3 linked regions of the Homo sapiens genome follow. The protein of the gene in region 1 purifies or fractionates together with the protein of each later gene. This does not show direct contact. Each region holds a gene or a part of one and is shown on either strand. Other genes may lie near its edges.

What was found. Proteins that work in one complex are often made in the same cells at the same time.
Region 2: the proteins of SCN5A (region 1) and LITAF purify together in Homo sapiens (affinity purification with western blotting, with the first as the bait; one study listed by BioGRID). This does not show direct contact.
Region 3: the proteins of SCN5A (region 1) and ADGRG5 purify together in Homo sapiens (co-immunoprecipitation; one large-scale study listed by IntAct). This does not show direct contact.

The regions. Positions count from the first base shown.
Region 1 is NC_000003.12:38,639,688-38,643,187, forward strand, and holds part of SCN5A (sodium channel protein type 5 subunit alpha), read right to left. Parts: intron 1-3,500. UniProt on the Homo sapiens protein: Pore-forming subunit of Nav1.5, a voltage-gated sodium (Nav) channel that directly mediates the depolarizing phase of action potentials in excitable membranes.
Region 2 is NC_000016.10:11,548,920-11,552,419, reverse strand, and holds part of LITAF (lipopolysaccharide-induced tumor necrosis factor-alpha factor), read left to right. Parts: intron 1-615; coding exon of another isoform or gene 616-697; exon of another isoform or gene 698-713; intron 714-2,674; coding exon 2,675-2,783; 3' UTR 2,784-3,500.
Region 3 is NC_000016.10:57,545,643-57,549,142, reverse strand, and holds part of ADGRG5 (adhesion G-protein coupled receptor G5 isoform 1 precursor), read right to left. Parts: intron 1-3,500. UniProt on the Homo sapiens protein: Orphan adhesion G-protein coupled receptor (aGPCR). Ligand binding causes a conformation change that triggers signaling via guanine nucleotide-binding proteins (G proteins) and modulates the activity of downstream effectors, such as adenylate cyclase.

The sequences.
Region 1 (3,500 bases):
CTGTGCCCTGCACTGCACTTAGTGCAGTTCGTGGATCACCTTACTTCATCCTTGCAACAATCCTAGGAAGACGGGGGTTATTAGCCTCGCTTTACAGATGGGAAATCTGACTGTAGGAGAGATGAAGTGAGCCCCTGTCTGTATGAAGCCAGGCCTGTGAGCCTACCCATTGCACCACATTGCCTCCTACCTCTGCGTGCAGAGAGTGGGATAAAAGCTCATGGCTTGCCTATGGCCCATCTGCCTGGACTGTGTCTGTGACCCCCACTTCAAGGCTAAGAGTCAGCCCTGTCAGCCTCATCTGAGCCTGGTTCTCCCTCTATGCAGCCCAGATGCTCCCAGGGAGACCTAGCCGATTTCTGCCCATGCCCGAAGAGTCAGCAGTTTTCCTGGCAGAAGCGATTCCCCAGCAGTTTTTCTCTCCAGCTCAAGCACTGTCCAACAACAGGGTGGCCACTCATTCACTGCATGTGGCTACCAAGTGCTTGGAATGTGGCTACTGTGGACTGAGTTGTGCTATTGTAAAGTCACATCCATTTTGCAGGCTTAGTACAATAAGGAATGTTGACTATTTCGTTAATAACTTTTAATATTGATTACAAGTTAAACAGATAATATTTGATAGTAGTATACTGGATTAAATAAAATGTGTTCAAGTTAATTTCACGTTTTTTTAGTTTAAAAAATGTGGCTGTTAGAAAATTTAAAATTGCATATGTGGCTTGCATTTGTGACTCATATTATATTTCTGTTGGATGGCACTGGCATCAAGTTCCAGCCACCAGGCCCTAAGCCCTTAAAAAAATTCTACCTGAGGCCGGGCACAGTGGCTCATGCCTGTAATCCCAGCACTTTGGGAGGCCGGGGCAGGTGGATCACCTGAGGTCAGGAGTTCGACACCAGCCTGGCCAACATGGTGAAACCCCATTTCTACTAAACATACAAAAAGCTAGCTGGGCGTGGTGGCAGGCACCTGTAATCCCAGCTACCAGGAGGCTGAGGCAGGAAAATTGCTTGAACTCGGGAGGCAGAGGTTGCAGTGAGCGGAGATTGCACCACTGCACTGCACTCCAGCTTGGGCGACAGAGCGACACTCTGTCTCGGGCAAGGGTGGGCGTGGGGAAGACTTCTACCTGCTTTGGGGGTGGGGCTGGGGGCGGGGGCCTCAGGGAAGGATTGAAAGAGCATTGTCCCCCGCAGACCAGAAAGTGCCCATCCTGGTTTCTGGCAGTGGCTGTGGGTGGTTGTGGAGGCTCAAGCCACAGGTTGGGATGGTGGGGGATGTAAGTGGGAGAGATCGACAGTAAGTTTCAGACCATCCCTCCCGCCCAGGCAATTGTCTGCACAGTCTCGGCTCTCCCGGGCTAACAGCTTGGACAAAGGCTCAGTGGGGGTGCCAGCTGGTGCTGGTGGCCTGTGCTTTCAGGTCCTTGCTCCCAGATCAAAGGCACATTGGTCCGTCCTTGCACGGGGCCTCAGCTAACCAGCTCCCCACAGGCTCCGCTCCTTTGAGGCTGCATAGGCATTAACCCTGTCCAGTCTGGAGCCCAGTTCTGGGGGAGATGGGAGAGTCTGAGGAGCCTGTCATTCTCTACTCTTAATCTCCGCCTCCAGCGATCTTGCTAAGTCCTGAAGAATCATCCCCATCCCTCCTGGAGGTGGAGGAGAACACACCCACCCTGAAGCCAGGGAATGCCCTCATTTACATACATTTACATCTCATTTATTCCAACACCCAGGCTGAAGCCGAGGCTAATTCAGCTGACAGGAAAACCCCACCCGCTTTAGCTCTGCTGCTCTGCTGAAGTGATTCCCCAGGCAGGGATGAAATGAAATGGGGGTGCCTGAGACCGGGTCCTCCTCCAGAGGTGGGAGCTGAGGAAGAGTGGGCTCTTCGGCCTGAGCCCTGAATTTTGCCCACCTCCCAAGGACAAACTGGCCTGGGGGTAGCCACTCTCTTCACTGAAAGGTGGGTGGCCCTGCTTTTTTCTTCATAGCCCTTCCCCACAGTAAGGATGGGGGCCGGGGGCTTGGCAGCAGCTTATTCAACCCATCGACTGTTCATCAGTGTCTGGGTGCCAGGCCAGGGGAACTGCAAAAGGCCCAGGTCATTCAGGTACCCCCTCCAAAGTGCATAGGGCACCCCCCTACCCCAGGCCCGAGTCTTCTTTGTCAGCCCCTTTACACATGCCCAGGTCCATCCACAGGGTATCTAGAATATGCTGAGTGGCACTTCGCTGTCAGCCAAGGCAGCACTGCCCCTGGCCCTGGGTCTCCAGGGTGGGGACCTGGATGGTCTAATACCCTGAAACCACAGAGACCCAGAGTTGGAGTGCCAGCTTAGTCACCCAGGGGCATTCCACCCCGGACCCCAGACCATCTCTGTGTAAACACACATGGTATACATAATCAGGCCAGAAAGGTGCCCACATGTGGCCCAGGAAACACCGTCATGGCACACAGGTGCCCGAGACAGCAATCAGCGTTCTAAGTCTCTTTCTAGCTCAATTCCTTCCAACTCATTTTTCTCAATACTTGAGCTGAAAAAAAGCTTCACAGAGGAACTGTGCACTGATGCCATGGCAACTGAGGCATTTATGGGGCACCTACTGTGTGCACCAAGAGAGATGGAAACCTCGGAGGCCCACCTCTAGGGTCTCTTAGTGTCCAGAGGGAAATAAGCCAATCAACCAATACACTAAATTTATGCCACAAAAGTGTCCATGATGTATTATAGCCAAATGTGCAACCCTTTTTTCTTAATATTCTTTCATACTGAGGTACTCTTTAAACACAAGAAAATGCTTTAAGTATACAGTTGGATGAGTTTTGACAAATGCATACACCTGTGTGAGTGCCACTCCAATAAGACAGCAAACATCCCCTCACCCCAGAAAGTCCCACTATTCCTTTCAGTCAACTGCTCTGATTTCTATCACCTAGGTTGGTTTTGCCTGTTCTGGAACTTCATGCATATGGAATTCTACCTTATGGGCTCTTCTGTGTCAGGCTGTTTTTACTCAACACGATGTTTGAGATTTTTACCTTTTATTTGTTGGCGAGTGTGATCTAAGCTCCCTGTGTAATGCACTGTGAATACAAGTCACCCATCTGGGGACGTGTCCTTAATTTGATCATAAAAGGCGAGGACTGGAAGGGACCTGAAGTCCAGCTATCTCTGGGGACCATAGACCCCAAGGGATCCTTAGGGAGTTGTTATCTCTCCTTCCCTCGGACTTCCTGAAACAGAAGCTCAGCAATTAGACATCTAATAGGCACCTAGGCTCCGCAAGCAAGTGGGGGCTTTCCTTGGGTTTCCAGTTTTGCTGGCAACTAGCTGTCGCTTTATTTAACTGGCAGTCTGTGCTGCATCTGACCCAGCACAGTGGTGAGGCTGTCGCTGCAAATGGCCGGCTGAGCTCCCGTGTCTTCTTCTGACCACGTCTATGAGCAGAACATGAGGAACAGAGGCTGGGGTGGGTGGTCTCTGGCCCTCAGCC
Region 2 (3,500 bases), on another chromosome or scaffold:
GAAGTATTTTTCCCATTGCCCATGCAGGGAAATTATATAAATTTTATGTCTGCACCAAAGGTATTATGTTTAAAGAGATAACAGTTTCTGTTCTGGGAGAAAAATCTGAGGAAACACAATCAATTTTTTGTTTCCCACCAAGCAGGTAAAAGTAGCTTCCTTATACCTGGCCACGTGAGCCACTCAGAAAACCCCAAGGGGCTCCATTCTTTTCCTTGAAGGAAACGGTGTTTGTGAGTTTCAGGAGCCTCATGCAACCGGCACGTTCCTCCACATTGTCCTTTGGTGACTTGAGGTTGAGAAGGAACAATATTTCTCTTCCTAACTTCAATAAGAGGCTCAGAGTCCCAGAGAGTTTAGTTAACTTCCTTGAGGTCATGTGTTAAATAAGGAAGGAAGGAGACAAAACAGCTTTCTGGGCACCTGATTCCCCCTCTTGCCCACAGGACTCTGCTGTTGTTTTCATTCTGTGGGCAGAAAATGCTTAAAAAAAAAAAAAGTCCATTGCCTCTGGATATTTGTATTAAAACAAATTTTTTATCTTTGGAATCAGGGAAAGATGGAATAGAAACTTGTTTTGTTTTGTTTGAGGCTGAGTCTTGCTCTGTTGTCCAGGCAGGAGTGCAGTGGTACGATCGTAGCTCTCCGCAGCTTTGATCTCCTGGGCTCCTGCAATCCGCCCAGCTCAGCCTCCTGAGTACCTGGGACCACAGGTGTGTGCCACCATACCTAGCTAATTTTTAAATTTTTTTTTTGTGTGTGTGGAAGCAGGGGTTTTACTATGTTGCCCAGGCTGGTCTTGAACTCCTGGACTCAAGCAGTCCTTCTGCCTTGACCTCCCAAAGTGCTGGGATTATAGAGGAATAGAAACTTACATTGAGTATTGGCCTCTGCCAGTCTGGCTTTAGAAATTGAGGCAACCTTTCTTTCCCTCCCTTTGTTCCTTCCTTAAACATGGTAGAGTGGGTTCAAATCCTGCCTCTCACTAGCTGTGTGGCCATGGGCAAGTGACTTTACCTCTCTGTGCTTCAGTTTCCCCATCTGTAGACGGGGGTGCGGGGCAATAACGCCCACCTCAGGGCCTGCTGAGGATGAAATATGTGTGTGTGCTGCCTGGAGCCGTGCCTGCACCTGTAAGCCATAGGTTAGGATTCCTGCTGAATGGATTGACTGCCCTTATTTGAGCTCTGGAAAGCTTAGGCAATAGGAGGAAATTTCTTTCATGAGATAATTTCCTCATCAGAATATTTCCAAATTCTGCTTTATGTAAACCAGCGTCTTCCTGTGAAGGGTTGAGTTTTAACTCCATTTTTGGCAAACATTGGTTGTCAGGCGGTCTGAGGTTCCTGCCTGTGTGTGCCAAAGGTGGATTATGTAGGTTAAGAGGCATTATTTGGGGAACTCTACTTGGTTGCTGTAAGAAGCAGCCTGTCTATATGGAAAAGAGATCAGTAAGACGGGGGTTGGCAAAACGACCCTGGAGCCAGGCGCCTGTTTTAAGTTTTACGGGAACACAGCCACGCCTGTTGGTTTTTGGATTCTCTGTGGCTGTCTTCTCATTCCAAGGGCAGAGTTGAGCAGTTGCAACAGAGACGCCATGGCTCATCAGGATGAAAGTATGTGGCCGGGTGTGTGGTGGCTTCCACCTGTAATCCCAGCAATTTGGGAGGCGGAGGTGGAAGGATCACTTGAGGCCAGCAGTTCAAGACCAGCCTGTGCAACATAGCAAGACCCCATCTCTACAAAAACAAACAAAACACAGCAACAAAAAGACTAAAAGATCTACTATCTGTCCCTTTGCAAAAAAAGTTCACCAAGCCCATCTAAGACTTTGAAAGACTCCCAAATGACCCCAGATTTGAAAATAATACTCAAAGGGGCTCTGTCTGTAGGAGGAGCCTTGGCATTGGCTGGCATGTTAATTTCCTAGGGGTGTCATCACAAATTACAACACACCTAGTGTTTAAAACAACAGATATTAACTCTCACAATTCTAGAGGCCAGAAGTGCAAAATCAAAATGTCAGCAGGGGCCGGGTGTGGTGGCTCTCGCCTGTAATCCCAGCACTTGGGGAGGCCAAGGCGGGTGGATCACTTGAGGTCAGGAGTTTGAGACCAGCCTGGCCAACACGGTGAAACCCCAACTCTCCTAATAATAAAAAAATTAGCTGGGCCTGGTGGCATGCGCCTGCAATCCCAGCTACTCAGGAGGCTGAGGCAGGAGAATTGCTTGAACCCAGGAGGAGGGAGAATTGCTTGAACCCTGGGCGACAGAGCGAGACTCCATCTCAAAAACAAAACAAAACAAAACCAAAAACTAAAATGTCAGCAGGGCCACGCTCCCTCCTAAGGCTTCAGGGAGAATCATTTTTTGCCTCCTCCAGCTTCTAGTAGGTCCAGGTGTCCTTGGCTTATGGCCTCATCACTCCAGCTTCTGCCTCTGTCTTCACATTTCCTTCTGCCCTCTCTGTATCTCTGTGTGTCCTCTCCTCTTCTTCTAAGGTCATTGGGTTTTAGGGGTCCGCCTGGATAATCCAAGATGATCCCATCTCAAAATTCCTAATTATACTGGCAAAGACCCTTTTTACAAAGAAGGACATGAACATGGTTTTGGCAGCCAGTGTTCACCCTGTTGTGATCAGTAACGCGCTCCGTGTGTCTCTCTCTCCTCCCAGGTGCATAGCGGGCTGCTGCTTCATCCCCTTCTGCGTGGATGCCCTGCAGGACGTGGACCATTACTGTCCCAACTGCAGAGCTCTCCTGGGCACCTACAAGCGTTTGTAGGACTCAGCCAGACGTGGAGGGAGCCGGGTGCCGCAGGAAGTCCTTTCCACCTCTCATCCAGCTTCACGCCTGGTGGAGGTTCTGCCCTGGTGGTCTCACCTCTCCAGGGGGCCCACCTTCATGTCTTCTTTTGGGGGGAATACGTCGCAAAACTAACAAATCTCCAAACCCCAGAAATTGCTGCTTGGAGTCGTGCATAGGACTTGCAAAGACATTCCCCTTGAGTGTCAGTTCCACGGTTTCCTGCCTCCCTGAGACCCTGAGTCCTGCCATCTAACTGTGATCATTGCCCTATCCGAATATCTTCCTGTGATCTGCCATCAGTGGCTCTTTTTTCCTGCTTCCATGGGCCTTTCTGGTGGCAGTCTCAAACTGAGAAGCCACAGTTGCCTTATTTTTGAGGCTGTTCTGCCCAGAGCTCGGCTGAACCAGCCTTTAGTGCCTACCATTATCTTATCCGTCTCTTCCCGTCCCTGATGACAAAGATCTTGCCTTACAGACTTTACAGGCTTGGCTTTGAGATTCTGTAACTGCAGACTTCATTAGCACACAGATTCACTTTAATTTCTTAATTTTTTTTTTAAATACAAGGAGGGGGCTATTAACACCCAGTACAGACATATCCACAAGGTCGTAAATGCATGCTAGAAAAATAGGGCTGGATCTTATCACTGCCCTGTCTCCCCTTGTTTCTCTGTGCCAGATCTTCAGTGCCCC
Region 3 (3,500 bases), on another chromosome or scaffold:
ATTATACACATACAAGAATATTTAGAATAGTATTGTTAATAAAGAAAAGTTGAAAGCTATGTGAATGTCTATCAATAGAGGAATAAATAAATTACACTCCAATGCCATTCTGGAAAACAGTTCGACAGTTTCTTATAAAACTAAACATGTACCTATCATATGACCCAATAATTGCACTCTTGGGCTTTTATCCCAGAGAAATGAAACCTCGTGTTCACACAAAAACCTGTATATGAAGAGTCATAGCAGCTTTATTCATGATAGCCTCAAAGTGGGTGAAAATGGTTAAATGGTGATACCTTTACACTCTGAAATACAATTCTCAGCAGTTAAAAAAATGAATTTCTAAAAAAAAGCTACTGACACACACAACTTGGATGGATCTTAAAGGAATTATCATGAGCCAAAAAAAAAAAAAAAAAAGCCAATCTCAAAATGTTGCATGCTGTGTGATTCAATTTATTTAACAGTCTTGAAATGACAAAATGATAAAGATGGAGAACAGATTAGTGGTTGCAAAGGGTTAGGGAGGGGGAGTGTGTTTCTTTAAAGGTCTCGCACAAGGGATCCTTGTGGCGATGGAACAGTTCTGTGTCTTGATCGTGGTGTTGTTTACAGGAATCTTTTATTTTATCATGTCATAAAATTGCAAGGAAAACCATTTGGCAGTTTCTTATAAAGTTAAAATATACTTACCAAAGAACCGGCATACATAAATGAGTGAGTATAATACAGAATGAAGTCTGTGAACTATACCAAAGACAATTTCCTGGCTTTGATATTATACTATAGGCATGCAAGATGTTACTACTGGAGAATAAGTGAAGGGTATACAAAACGTTCTGTACTATTTTTTGCAACCTTCTGTGCATTTATAATTTTCTCAAAATTAAAAGTTAAAATATGCAACAGATTGTCATTTCACTATTAAGAATTATGTGTATTCTTTAAAAAAAAAAAAAAAAAGATGTGTATAGCCAGGCACCATGGTTTGCACCTGTAATCCTAAACTAAGGCAGGAGAATCGCTTGAGGCCAGGAGTTCAAGACCAGCCTAGGCAACATAGTGAGACCCTTTCTCTAAAAAATATTTTGAGGCCAGGCGTGGTGGCTCATACCTGTAATCCCAGCACGCTGGGAGGCCTAGGTGGGCAAATCACTTGAGGTCAGGAGTTCAAGACCAGCCTGGGCAACATGGAAAAACCCCATCTCTACTAAAAATATAAAAATTAGCCAGGCGTGTTGGCACACGTGTAATCCTAGCTACTCAGGAGGCTGAGGCAAGAGGACTGCTTGAGTCCAGGAGTTCAATGCTTCAGTGAGCTATGATGGCACCTCTGCACTCCAGCCAGGATGACAGAGTGAGACTCTTCTCCAAAAACAAAAAACAAAAAACAGGCTGGGCGCAGTGGCTCACGCCTGTAATCCCAGCACTCTGGGAGGCCGAGGCAGGCGCGGATCACAAGGTCAGGAGATTGAGACCATCCTGGTCAACATGATGAAACCGCGTCTCTACTAAAAATACAAAAAAATTAGCTGGGTTTGGTGGCAGGCGCCTGTAATCCCAGCTACTCAGGAGGCTGAGGCAGGAGAATCGCTTGAACCCAGTAGGCGGAGGTTGCAGTGAGCCGAGATCGCGCCACTGCACTCCAGCCTGGCCACAGAGCGAGACTCCGTCTCAAAAAAAACAAAACCAAAAACAAACAAAAAACAAAGCCATGTAAAAGAAGAGCACAGCATATCACTGAGTGGAAAGGACAGGTTGAAAATAACACACATAATCTCATTTATGAAAAATTATGTTTGTATGCATGCTGAAGCATATTGGGAGCTCTAGAAGGGTGGCCACCAAAATGTTAATAATGCTTTTTTGAGGGGAGAGGTGTTTTCAAAACTTCCTTTTATATTTTCTGTATTGTTTAAATTTTCTACAACAAACATATTACCTTCATGACAACAACAAAAAAAACACAAATATTTTAATAGGATTTTTAAATGCTCCAAATGACTATCAATATGGAAGAAATAATAGTGGCATATTGCTCATGAAAGACAGAAAGCACATTGCAAAACAACCTAATCCCATTCTTGAAAAAAAATCCATATATTTTATTACATGCAAAATCTGGACAGGCCAGGTGCAGTGGCTCACACCTGTAATCCCAGCACTTTGGGAGGCCAAGGCAGGAGGATCACTTGAGCCCAGGAGATGGAGACCACCCTGGGCAACACAGCAAGACCCCCATCTCTACAAAATATTAGCTGGGCATGGTGGCGCACACCTGTAGTCCCAGCTACTTGGGAGGCTGAGGTGGGAGGATCACTTGAGCCCGGGAGGTTGAGGCTGCAGTGAGCTATGATTGTGCCACTGCACTCCAGCCTGGGTGACAGATCAAAACCCTGTCTCAAAAACAAAAAACAGAAACCAAATAAGAAAACACTGGAGTGGGGAAGGTTTTTCTAGCTATGACTCAAAATCCAGAAGCCAAAAGAGAAAATACAGATACATTTTATTACATAAAAATTATTTAAAAAGACACTTCTACCTGGCCAAAAGAAGGCCATATGTAATGTTAAAAGACAAGTGACAAATTAGGAAAAATATTTGCATGTAATAGTTTTATATATGTACAATAGACAAGAGCTGATTTTCCCATTATGTAAAAGTTTCTAGAAATTGATAAGGAAAAGTCTAACCCAATATAAAAATGGGCAAATGGCGGGGCGTGGTAGCTCATACCTGTAATCTCAGCGCTTTGGTAGGCTGAGGCAGGAGGATCATTTGAGCTCAGGAATTCGAGACCAGCCTAAGCAACATAGCAAGATCTTGTCTCTACTAAAAATCAGAAACATTAGCTGAGCATGGTGCCATGCACCCAGTAGTTTCAGCTGCTTGGGATGCTGAGGTGAGAGGATCACGTGAGCCCAGGAGTTTGAGGCTGCAGTGAGCTATGATGGTGGCACTGCACTCCAGCTTGTGTGACAGAATGAGACCCTGTATCAAAAATAAATAAATAGAGCCAGACACGGTGGCTCACACCTGTAATCCCAGCACTTTGGGAGGCCGAGGCAGGAGGCTCACCTGAGGTCAGGAGTTCAAGACCAGCCTGGCCAACAAGGTGAAACTCTGTCTCTACTAAAAATACAAAAATTAGTCAGGCGCAGTGGAGCGTGCCTGTAATCCCAGCTACTCGGGAGGCTGAGCCAGGAGAATCGTTTGAACCCGGGAGGCAGAGGTTGCAGTTAGCAGAGATCACATCACTGCACTCCAGCCTGGGTGACAGAGCAAGACTCTGTCTCAAAAAATAAAAATAAATAAATGGTGAACTTGCACATGTGAGAAATAATATAAGCACAGCTACATTGTTTGTAAGAGCAAATAACTAGAACCAGCACAAATATCTATGAACACGGGACTAATTAAATAAACTGTAACTTATTCCTACAACATTAGAATATGCAGATGAAAAAGTGGAAGCTCTGCTCTTATTGACATGGAAA